Homo sapiens: one gene and its partners. The protein of the gene in region 3 purifies or fractionates together with the protein of the main gene of each other region. This does not show direct contact. Each region holds a gene or a part of one and is shown on either strand. Other genes may lie near its edges.

Region 1 (3,648 bases), on a different chromosome or scaffold from region 3:
AAAGAAAAATAATATATATAATTAATCTACTATTTTATTTTATTTTATTTTTTTTGAGACGGAGTCTCGCTTTGTCACCCAGGCTGGAGTGCAGTGGCGCAATCTCAGCTCACTGCAACCTCCACCTCCCGGGTTCAAGCGATTCTTCTGCCTCAGCCTCCCGAGTAGCTGGCACTGCAGGCGCCCGCCACCATGCCCAGCTAATTTCTGTATTTTTAGTAGAGACGGGGTTTCACCGTGTTAGCCAGGATGGTCCCAATCTCCTGAACTTGTGATCCGCCTGCCTTGACCTCCCAAAGTGCTGGGATTGATTACAGGGGTGAGCCACCGTGCCTGGCCTATTAATTTATTTTAGGGCCGGGGTGTTGCTCTGTCGCCCAGGCTGGAGGGCAGTGGCGCAATCATCGCTCACTGCAGCCTCCACCTCCTGGGCTCATCATCCTCCCAGCTCAGCCTCCCAAGTAGCTGGGATTACAGGCATGCACCACCACGCCTGGCTAATTTTTAAAAATTTTTTCGGCCGGGCACGGTGGCTCACGCCTATAATCCCAGCACTTTGGGAGGCCGAGGCAGGTGGATCACGAGGTCAGATCGAGACCATCCTGGCTAACACGGTGAAACCCCGTCCCTACTAAAAATGCAAAAAAAAAAAAAAAAAAAAAAATTAGCCAGGCGTGGTGGTGGGCGCCTGTAGTCCCAGCTGCTGTGGAGACTGAGGTAGGAGAATGGCGTGAACCCGGGAGGCAAAGCTTGCAGTGAGCTGAGATTGCGCCACTGCACTCCAGCCTGGGTGACAGAGCGAGACTCTGTCTCAAAAAAATAAAAATAAAAATAAATAAAAATAAAAAAATTTTGTGGAGCAGGGGCCTCGCTATGTTGCCCTGGCTGGTCTCAAACTCCTGAGCTCAAGTGATCCTCCCACCTCAGCCTCCCAGAGATTACAGGTAAAAACTGCACCCAGCCTGGGGCCTCACCCTTTGAGGGGCTCGATGACAGTGGCTCCCGTGTAGTCCTCGCCGCCCTCTGACTTCACCACGGGCATCAGCAGCCCCTCGTGCATGGCCTGGGAGGGGAGAAGGTGGGAAATGGAGTGGGTATAGGTGGGGCCGTGCGGATTGGGAGTGGGGAGAAAAAGTGCATCCAGGATGCCATTGCCTGGAGGGGGCCACAGACGTGCCTGGTGGGGGGTGGCGAGGACAAGTCTCGGCTACTGACCTGCCGCAACAGCTGGGATACGACCTTGACCTGCTGGCCACGACTGAGCAGGTAGCTGAGGGGCACGCCAGTGACCCTCGCCATCTCCACGGCGTTCACCAGCACCATGAGCCGCTCCAGCAGCCGCAGTGGCAGGTAGGCATCCTTCAGGCAGTACACAGCCAGGCGGCGGCGGGTCTGGTCGTTCCCATTCTGGGGATGGGCACGGATGGGGTCAGGGACCAGGGGTTGGGGGTGGGAGGTGGAGCAGGAGAAGGAAGTGGGGGTCAGGGTGAGGTAGCCTGGGGAGGGCCTGGGAGGTGAGGCGGGCAGGAGGGCCCTCCAAGTCGTCAGGGTCTGGGTGGGGATGGAGGTAGGGTTGGGGGCCAGGGAGTCCACAGGGCCAGAGGGAGGAGGAGGGAGCAGCCTGAAGGCCACCGTGGACCTGTGGTCAGGCCAGGAAAGCAGAGACAAGGTCATAGTGACAGAGGTCACAGGAGTGGAGAGAAATCTGGGGTCAGAGGTCAGGAAAAAGTGGGCGTCAGGTAAGGTCACAGGTCATAACAGCAGGTCAAAGAGTGAGGTCAGACGTGGGGGCGTGAAGTTGAGGTCAGAGGCCGGGGAAGGGTGAGGTGGAGGTCAGAGGTTGGGGTGAGAGGTCAGGGAGGCAGCAGGCACCTGCAGGTCGGTGATGATGCTGTGCTGCACGTCCTCCTTCTGCTCGCCCAGGAAGTGGAAGCTCACGGCATTGAGCGTGTAGGAGCGGAGCTTGTACTCCCGCAGCAGCACCTAGGTGGGTGGGTGGGCTGGTGGGCTGCGGGCCTGGGCAGTGGCCTTCCAAGGACAGGGACACACCCCACCTCCCGCCCATACCTGCAGCATGTCCATCTGCACGCGGCCCACCATGCTGACAACCTTGGTGTCCCGCCGGCCCGTCTGCTTGGACTGGAATGAAGAGTCCCGGATGTTGGAGCAAAGGCCGGCCACACGGCCCAGGAAAGGGAATGTTTGTACCTGAGGAGGAGAGGCAGGGTGTGCAGCAGGCTGCGGGTCCCCGTCACATAAGCCTGAAGAACGGAGATTGAGACCAACCACAACATCCTTATAACAACCCTAGGGGGTCGAGAGCAACCCTGGGGGCAGAAAGACGGTCTGGGGCTGGGTGTGGGTGGCTGGAGACTGGGGAGGGAGTCCGGAGTAAGGACTAAGCTGCAGCCAAGGCTGGGATAGCGAGAGTCAGGGGCCCTGATGGACTGGGGGCCAAGGATGGAGCCCAGTGTCTGCGGGCTGTACCTAGGCAGGAAACAGGAAGAGATTTGGGGACACTGTGAGCAGGCGGCCAGGTGGGGGCAGAGGCAGGAGGCGGCGTGGAGCTGGGCTGAGATGGATGCTGAGGGCGCTGGAGGGCGCCTGGCTGCAGGAGGCCTTGCAGGGTGCTGGGGCCCAGCCTGGGGGAGACTGAGGCCAGAAGAAGCCTGAGCTGGGGACAGGGCAGAGGGTGAGGGACACCCAGGGAAGGGGAGGAGGAGTACCATGGCCCGGGCATCAGCGCCACGCTGTGGAATATACACTGGGGGTCCTAAGAGTTTGTTCTGTATTTTAGAATGGATTTTTTCTTGTTTTCTCTTTAATAGAGGCAGGGTCTTGCTATGTTGCCCTGGCTGGTCTTGAACTCCTGGGCTCCATCGATCCTCTCGCCTCATCCTCCCAAAGTGCTGGGATTAGAGGCGTGAGCCACCACACCCAGCCTGTTTTGTTTTTCCATTACCAAGCTGGCCAGACATAGAGAAAAGCAGGAAAATAAGGCAATATATCTCATTAAGGGCTGAACCATGTTCTCCCAAAAGATGTTGAAGCCCTAACCCCCGGCACCTCAGAATGTAACCTCATTTGGAAATATGTCTTCGCAGGGGGTCAAGTGAAGATGAGGTCACTGGGGTGGGCCCTCACCTCACGACGGTGTCACTACACAAAGAGGACATGTGGGCTAGGTGCACTGGCTCACACCTGTAATCCCAGCACTTTGAGAGGCTGAGGTGGGCAGATCACCTGAGGTGAGGATGGAGACCAGCCTGGCCAACATGATGAAACCTAGTCTCTGCTAAAAAAAACAAAAACAAAAACAAAAATAGGCCAGGCGCGGTGGCTCACGCCTGTAATCCCAGCACTTTGGGAGGCCGAAGTGGGCAGATCACCTGAGATTGGGAGTTCGAGACCAGCCTGGCCAACATGGAGAAACCCTGTCTACTAAAAATACAAAATTAGTCGGGCATGGAAGCGGGTGCCTATAATCCCAGCTACTTGGGAGGCTGAGGCAGGAGAATCACTTCTACACCCCAGCGCCCCCTGGGAGGCGGAGGTTGTGGTGAGCCAAGATCGTGCCATTGCACTCCAGCCTGGGCAACAAGAGCGAAATTCCATCTCAAGAAACAATAACAAAAAAGCAAAAATTTG
Region 2 (3,648 bases), on a different chromosome or scaffold from region 3:
ATGGGGCAGACGGGACAGCAGTGTGAGCACACTGATGCTCGACATCGCACACTGCAGCCACGACGAGACAGCACCACACACCCATCAGGATGGGGCAGACGGGACAGCAGTGTGAGCACACTGATGCTCGACATCGCACACTGCAGCCACGACGAGACAGCACCACACACCCATCAGGATGGGGCAGACGGGACAGCAGTGTGAGCACGCTGATGCTCGACATCGCACACTGCAGCCACGATGAGACAGCACCACACACCCATCAGGATGGGGCAGACGGGACAGCAATGTGAGCACGCTGAGATGCTCGACATCGCACACTGCAGCCACGACGAGACAGCACCACACACCCATCAGGATGGGGCAGACGGGACAGCAGTGTGAGCACACTGATGCTCGACATCGCACACTGCAGCCACGACGAGACAGCACCACACACCCATCAGGATGGGGCAGACGGGACAGCAGTGTGAGCACACTGATGCTCGACATCGCACACTGCAGCCACGACGAGACAGCACCACACACCCATCAGGATGGGGCAGACGGGACAGCAATGTGAGCACGCTGATGCTCGACATCGCACACTGCAGCCACGATGAGACAGCACCACACACCCATCAGGATGGGGCAGACGGGACAGCAGTGTGAGCACGCTGATGCTCGACATCACACACTGCAGCCACGATGAGACAGCACCACACACCCATCACGATGGGGCAGACGGGACAGCAGTGTGAGCACGCTGATGCTCGACATCGAATACTGCAGCCACGATGAGACAGCACCACACACCCATCACGATGGGGCAGACGGGACAGCAATGTGAGCACGCTGATGCTCGACATCGCACACTGCAGCCATGACGAGACAGCACCACACACCCATCATGATGGGGCAGACTGGACAGCAATGTGAGCACGCTGAGATGCTCGACATTGCACACTGCAGCCACGATGAGACAGCACCACACACCCATCAGGATGGGGCAGACGGGACAGCAATGTGAGCACGCTGAGATGCTCGACATTGCACACTGCAGCCACGACGAGACAGCACCACACACCCATCAGGATGGGGCAGACGGGACAGCAGTGTGAGCACGCTGATGCTTGACATCGCACACTGCAGCCACGATGAGACAGCACCACACACCCATCAGGATGGGGCAGACGGGACAGCAGTGTGAGCACGCTGATGCTCGACATCGCACACTGCAGCCACGATGAGACAGCACCACACACCCATCAGGATGGGGCAGACGGGACAGCAATGTGAGCATGCTGAGATGCTCGACATTGCACACTGCAGCCACGATGAGACAGCACCACACACCCATCAGGATGGGGCAGACGGGACAGCAATGTGAGCACGCTGAGATGCTCGACATTGCACACTGCAGCCACGACGAGACAGCACCACACACCCATCAGGATGGGGCAGACGGGACAGCAGTGTGAGCACGCTGATGCTTGACATCGCACACTGCAGCCACGATGAGACAGCACCACACACCCATCAGGATGGGGCAGACGGGACAGCAGTGTGAGCACGCTGATGCTCGACATCGCACACTGCAGCCACGATGAGACAGCACCACACACCCATCACGATGGGGCAGACGGGACAGCAGTGTGAGCACACTGATGCTCGACATCGAATACTGCAGCCACGACGAGACAGCACCACACACCCATCAGGATGGGGCAGACGGGACAGCAGTGTGAGCACACTGATGCTCGACATCGCACACTGCAGCCACGACGAGACAGCACCACACACCCATCACGATGGGGCAGACGGGACAGCAGTGTGAGCACGCTGATGCTCGACATCGCACACTGCAGCCATGACGAGACAGCACCACACACCCATCATGATGGGGCAGACTGGACAGCAGTGTGAGCACACTGATGCTTGACATCGCACACTGCAGCCACGACGAGACAGCACCACACACCCATCAGGATGGGGCAGACGGGACAGCAGTGTGAGCACGCTGATGCTCGACATCGCACACTGCAGCCACGACGAGACAGCACCACACACCCATCAGGATGGGGCAGACGGGACAGCAGTGTGAGCACGCTGATGCTCGACATTGCACGCTGCAGCCACGATGAGACAGCACCACACACCCATCAGGATGGGGCAGACGGGACAGCAGTGAAACACCAAATACTGACCAGGTGGAGAAACCGATCAGCTCTGCATTGCTGGTGAGAACCTAAAACGGTGCAGCAACTCGGGAAACATTTCAGCCCTTCTTAAAAAACTAAACGTGCAACCTCCATAAAACCCAGTAATTTCACTTCTGGCCCTTTATCCGAGAGAAATGAAAACTTACATCGACACAAAAACCTACACAAGAATGTTTATAAGAGCTTTATTCATAACAGCTGAAAACTGGAAAGGACCCAGATGTCTTTCAGTGGTTAAACACACTGTGGTACGTCCATGTCATAAAACACGACTCAGCAATGAAACTATCTATGAACTACTGATACAGCAACAATCTGCATGGACCTCAGGGGGTTATGCTGAATGAAAAAAGTCAACCCGAAAGGTTATATACTGTTTGATTCCATTTACATAACATTCTTGAAATGACAAAGTTCTGGAGATGAAGAACAGATCAGTAGCTGCCGGGGGCTATGGAGGGAGGGGCGGTACACAGGGCAGCACGTGAGGCCCCAGGGATTGGGGTATCTTGACCGCATCCTGGCAGATGTCTTGGCTGTGACACTGCACTATCGTTTTGCAGATGCTTCCACTGGGGAAAGCTGGGTAGAGGGTACACGGGCTCTCTGCATTACTGATGACAACTGCATGTGATTTACATGACCCCAAAATAAAATATTTAATTAAAAGAAACTGAGTTGGGCCCAGTGAACTCAACCAGTCCCTTTCAGCTCTAAAACTATGTTTTCTGGGTCAGGGGAGGAAACAGGAGGTACAGGAACACTAGAGGGGAGAAAGCACGGAGAGATGGGAAAAGCACGGAGAGAGAGATGGGGAAAGGGCAATCAAGAAGACTGAGAGAAAAGGGGGGAAGCAGAATGACAGAGGAGGTGTGAAGAGAGAGAAGCCCTCTGGAGTGCTGAAATACTGAATATTCTCCCCTGGGAGCTACTCAGGGTAAGAATTTCTCCAGGGACTGCTCTTTCGGGCAAGCACAATTACACACATTTCTATGTTATGTTAAGTAAAAATCTAGTAAATGGGCTGGGCACGGTGGCTCACACCTGTAACCCCAGCACTTTGGGAGGCCGAGGCGGGCAGATCATGAGGTCAGGAGATCGAGACCATCCTGGCCAATGTGGTGAAACCCCGTCTCTACTAAAAATACAAAAATTAGCTGGACGTGGTGAGGGGCGCCTGTAATCCCAGCTACTCGGGAGGCTGAGGCAGGAGAATCACTAGAACCAGGGAGTCAGAGGTTGCAGCAAGCCGAGATCGCGCCACTGCACTCCAGCCTGGCGACAGGGCAAGACTCCGTCTCGAAAAAAAAAAAAAATTCTAGTAAATGAAGCGAGTGATCAGGACAAAACTAGCCTCTCATCAATAAATCAACCAATAGCGCTTATCAAGTATTCATATGTCTGCCTCTTCTTCTAGACTACACTAGGGGCTGGTTAACGCTCCTAT
Region 3 (3,362 bases):
AAACAGTACAATGAAATGCAGAAGCTCTGTCATAGAGATGTTTTTGGAGATAACTGAGTACTGTAGATAATTAACTGGATCAAACTGTCCTAAGAAGAAACCTCACTTTTCAGTAGACTCTGTGTTGCCTACTTTACCATTTCAAAATCCACAGATGTCACAATTTTTTTGTTTGTTCATTTGTTGTTTTTGAGACAGGGTCTTGCTCTGTTGCCCAGGTTGGATTGCAGTGGTGTCATCATAGCTCATGGCAGCCTCCAACTCCTGGGCTCAAGTGATCCTCCCACCTCAGCCTCCCATGTAACTGTGACTTCAAGAGTTGTGCTACCACACCCAGCTAATAAAAAAAATTATTTGTAGAGATGGGTCTTGCTTTGTCCAGGTTGGTCTCAAACTCCTGGCCTCAAATGATTCTCCTCCCTTGGCCTCCCAAAGTGCTGGGATTAAGGCATGAACCTCTGCGCCTGGCCTAAATCGATTTTGAAATGAGCTTTCCCTTTAAAACATCACTGTTCACCTCAGGAAGCTAGAATTCATGGAAGCCTGTTTTCAGCCTTTCTTCTCATTGGTTTTTTTCAAGCTTTGGTAAATAAACACCAAGGGGAAGCCTGCCCCTTGACTCCCCTTGAAATAGAACGAACATGCTGTAAAGTTTGAATCTCCCTTGTTCCTGGAAGAAATGCTAAAATCCATTTTTCAAAACAACAGGCTAGTAAAATTTTCTTCCTTTTGATGGCGCATTGAGCTTTTTAGTGATTAGGAAAGAGCTGTCAGAAAAAATGATGGCTGCCCCTAAAATCTTGTTTAGTGAAGACCTTCCTAAAAAATCTGTTTTTAGGAGTAGTATCACAGATTTTATGCAGTTTGTTAAATGTCACCAAGGACACTTGGTAAGAATGAGTGGAGGCAGAGGTGAGACCGGAGGAGAACCCGCGACCTTCTGTGGCTCCCCCGCAGCTGACACTAGCAGGCGTGAGCTCACATCATTGCCTGGGTCAGGCCTGGATTGTTAAGGGGTGCTGAAGACAGTTGTATGGTCGTGACTGCTGTGGGTGGGGATTATCCCTGCCCTCCACCTGACCATCCATTCTGCGTGCCCACGGATGCCCCTTTTTGAGGTTGTGAAAGTCCCTGTCACTGATGAGCTATCCTGCTCTGTTCCCTTCCTTGTGGGTGACCGTATATCCTCATTCTTAGAAACCCTCTCCTGTTTGGAGGGTGGAACACGGAAATGGAAACGTTCTTCTAACTTTGTATTTCACTACTGAGTTCCCCTTTTTTTCTTTTTCCAGTCAGATATGTACAGCTTGGGTGTGGTCCTGCTAGAGCTCTTTCAGCCGTTTGGAACAGAAATGGAGCGAGCAGAAGTTCTAACAGGTTTAAGAACTGGTCAGTTGCCGGAATCCCTCCGTAAAAGGTGTCCAGTGCAAGCCAAGTATATCCAGCACTTAACGAGAAGGAACTCATCGCAGAGACCATCTGCCATTCAGCTGCTGCAGAGTGAACTTTTCCAAAATTCTGGAAATGTATGTGCTTTTCTTTCTCTTGGTCCTGGAGTGAAGGTGGTTTTTATTGCCTCTCTTGGGGAAGGAAGCGGTTGGGTGGTGCCCCCGGAGGCTGGGGCTGGAAGAGCCAGATGATGGTTCTGGAGGCGGGGCCTGTTTGTTCTCGTCCACTTCCTGGCACTCAGCTGCAGGGTGTGCTGGCAGGACTCACTCCCCTTGGGGTAGCAGCTGTGGCCTCAGCAGGCACAGGAGGTATCTGCTGGTGTTCACAAAGAGGAGCGGAGGGCTGGGGGCCAACCCCACAGCGAAGGCCGGTAGGAAACTTCCTGGGGCCTGGTGGGTGAGACTCCTTCCCGGAAAGGCCGGAGGGGCCCGCAGGGTTTGCACCTTCTCATGGCTAGGCCTTTAGATGTCCAGGTCAAACTCTGACCCTTCACCACCTGCCTGCTGTTCTGGGCTGTCTGTATGTCTGCCGGGGGCTCATCACTGGCAGGGCTGGTGACCCCGGAAGTGGTGGGCGGGTCCCTCGAGGGTGTTTTGGTCACTGGTGAGTTCAGCACTCTATTGGGAATTTCCAGTTGTACATGATCCTGGTACCTCCCCGGGTAGTGCTGAAGAGTGTGCCCGATGGGGTTGCTGCATTCCCTGCGCAGTACACAGTCATTGGACCACCGGGGAGAGGCAGGGGTGGCCTGGCGTGGGGGTCCGGCTGCAGCTGCTGCCCTGGACATGGTCTCTGTACATGTTTTTTTTTTAAATGCTGAGGAAAATATGAAGCTTAAAATAGAATTTGTTCAAATTGTGAATCCTGGCCAGGCGGGGTGGCTCATGCCTGTAATCCCAGGCATGGGATTTTGGGAGGCAGAGGTGGGAGGATTGCCTGATGTTAGGAGTTCAAGACCAGCCCGGCCAACATGGTGAAACCCCATCTACTAAAAGTACAAAAATTAGCCGGGCGTGGTGGTGCACACCTGTAATCCCACCTCCTTGGGAGGCTGAGGCAGGACAGTCACTTGAACTGGGAGGCGGAGGTTGCAGTGAGCTGAGATCACACCACTGTACTCCAGCCTCGGCGAAAGAGCGAGACTCCGTCTCAATATAAATAGTGAACCCTGTTTCAGTGAATAGTCGAGCTTAGACTCATATTTGTGCAAACAAAATATTTAAACCCATTCTCAGAGTTCCCTGACTGTATCAAGCACTAGGTTGAATACCAGTAGCATGCTTATATTCATTGTCCACGTAAGCAGGTTGACTCCCCACCGCCTGTCTACTCTAAGAGTTACAAGCATTGGGCGTGGTGGCTCACGCCTGTAATCCCAGCACTTTGGGAGGCTGAGGCAGGCGGATCATGAGGTCAGGAGTTCAAGACCAGCCTGACCAACATGGTAAAACCCCATCTCTACTAAAAATACAAAAATTAGCCGGTGTGAGCTACCATGCCCAGCCACAGATGTGGTTCTTGAAACCAAGTATAAACATTTATCTTCATATATGAAGGGGATTTTCTGATGCTCAGTTAAGATAGCTATTAGAGACCATAGTTATTTAGTATTTATGGTAAGGATTTCTACTATCTTGCAAAAGTTTTTTGTATAAAATGAAACCTTGGCTGGGTGTGGTGGCTCACACCTGTAATTCCAGCACTTTGGGAGGTCGAGGCGGGTGGGTCACTTGAGGTAAGGAGTTTGAGACCGGCCTGGCCAACATGGCGAAACCTCATCTCTACTAAAAATACAGAAACTAGCTGGGCTTGTATGAGAGCGCCTGTAATCCCAGCTACTTGGGTGGCTGAGGCACGAGAATAGCTTGAACTGGGGAGGCACAGGTTGCAGTGAGCCAAGATCATGCCACTGT

What was found.
Region 1: the proteins of EIF2AK1 (region 3) and POLD1 purify together in Homo sapiens (affinity purification with mass spectrometry, with the first as the bait; one large-scale study listed by BioGRID). This does not show direct contact.
Region 2: the proteins of EIF2AK1 (region 3) and CCDC127 purify together in Homo sapiens (co-immunoprecipitation; one large-scale study listed by IntAct). This does not show direct contact.

What each region holds. Positions count from the first base shown.
Region 1 is NC_000019.10:50,404,742-50,408,389, reverse strand, and holds part of POLD1 (DNA polymerase delta catalytic subunit), read right to left. Parts: intron 2,209-3,648; coding exon 2,068-2,208; intron 1,984-2,067; coding exon 1,873-1,983; intron 1,408-1,872; coding exon 1,216-1,407; intron 1,064-1,215; coding exon 975-1,063; intron 1-974. UniProt on the Homo sapiens protein: As the catalytic component of the trimeric (Pol-delta3 complex) and tetrameric DNA polymerase delta complexes (Pol-delta4 complex), plays a crucial role in high fidelity genome replication, including in lagging strand synthesis, and repair.
Region 2 is NC_000005.10:211,525-215,172, forward strand, and holds part of CCDC127 (coiled-coil domain-containing protein 127), read right to left. Parts: intron 1-3,648.
Region 3 is NC_000007.14:6,024,892-6,028,253, reverse strand, and holds part of EIF2AK1 (eukaryotic translation initiation factor 2-alpha kinase 1), read left to right. Parts: intron 1-1,292; coding exon 1,293-1,526; intron 1,527-3,362. UniProt on the Homo sapiens protein: Metabolic-stress sensing protein kinase that phosphorylates the alpha subunit of eukaryotic translation initiation factor 2 (EIF2S1/eIF-2-alpha) in response to various stress conditions.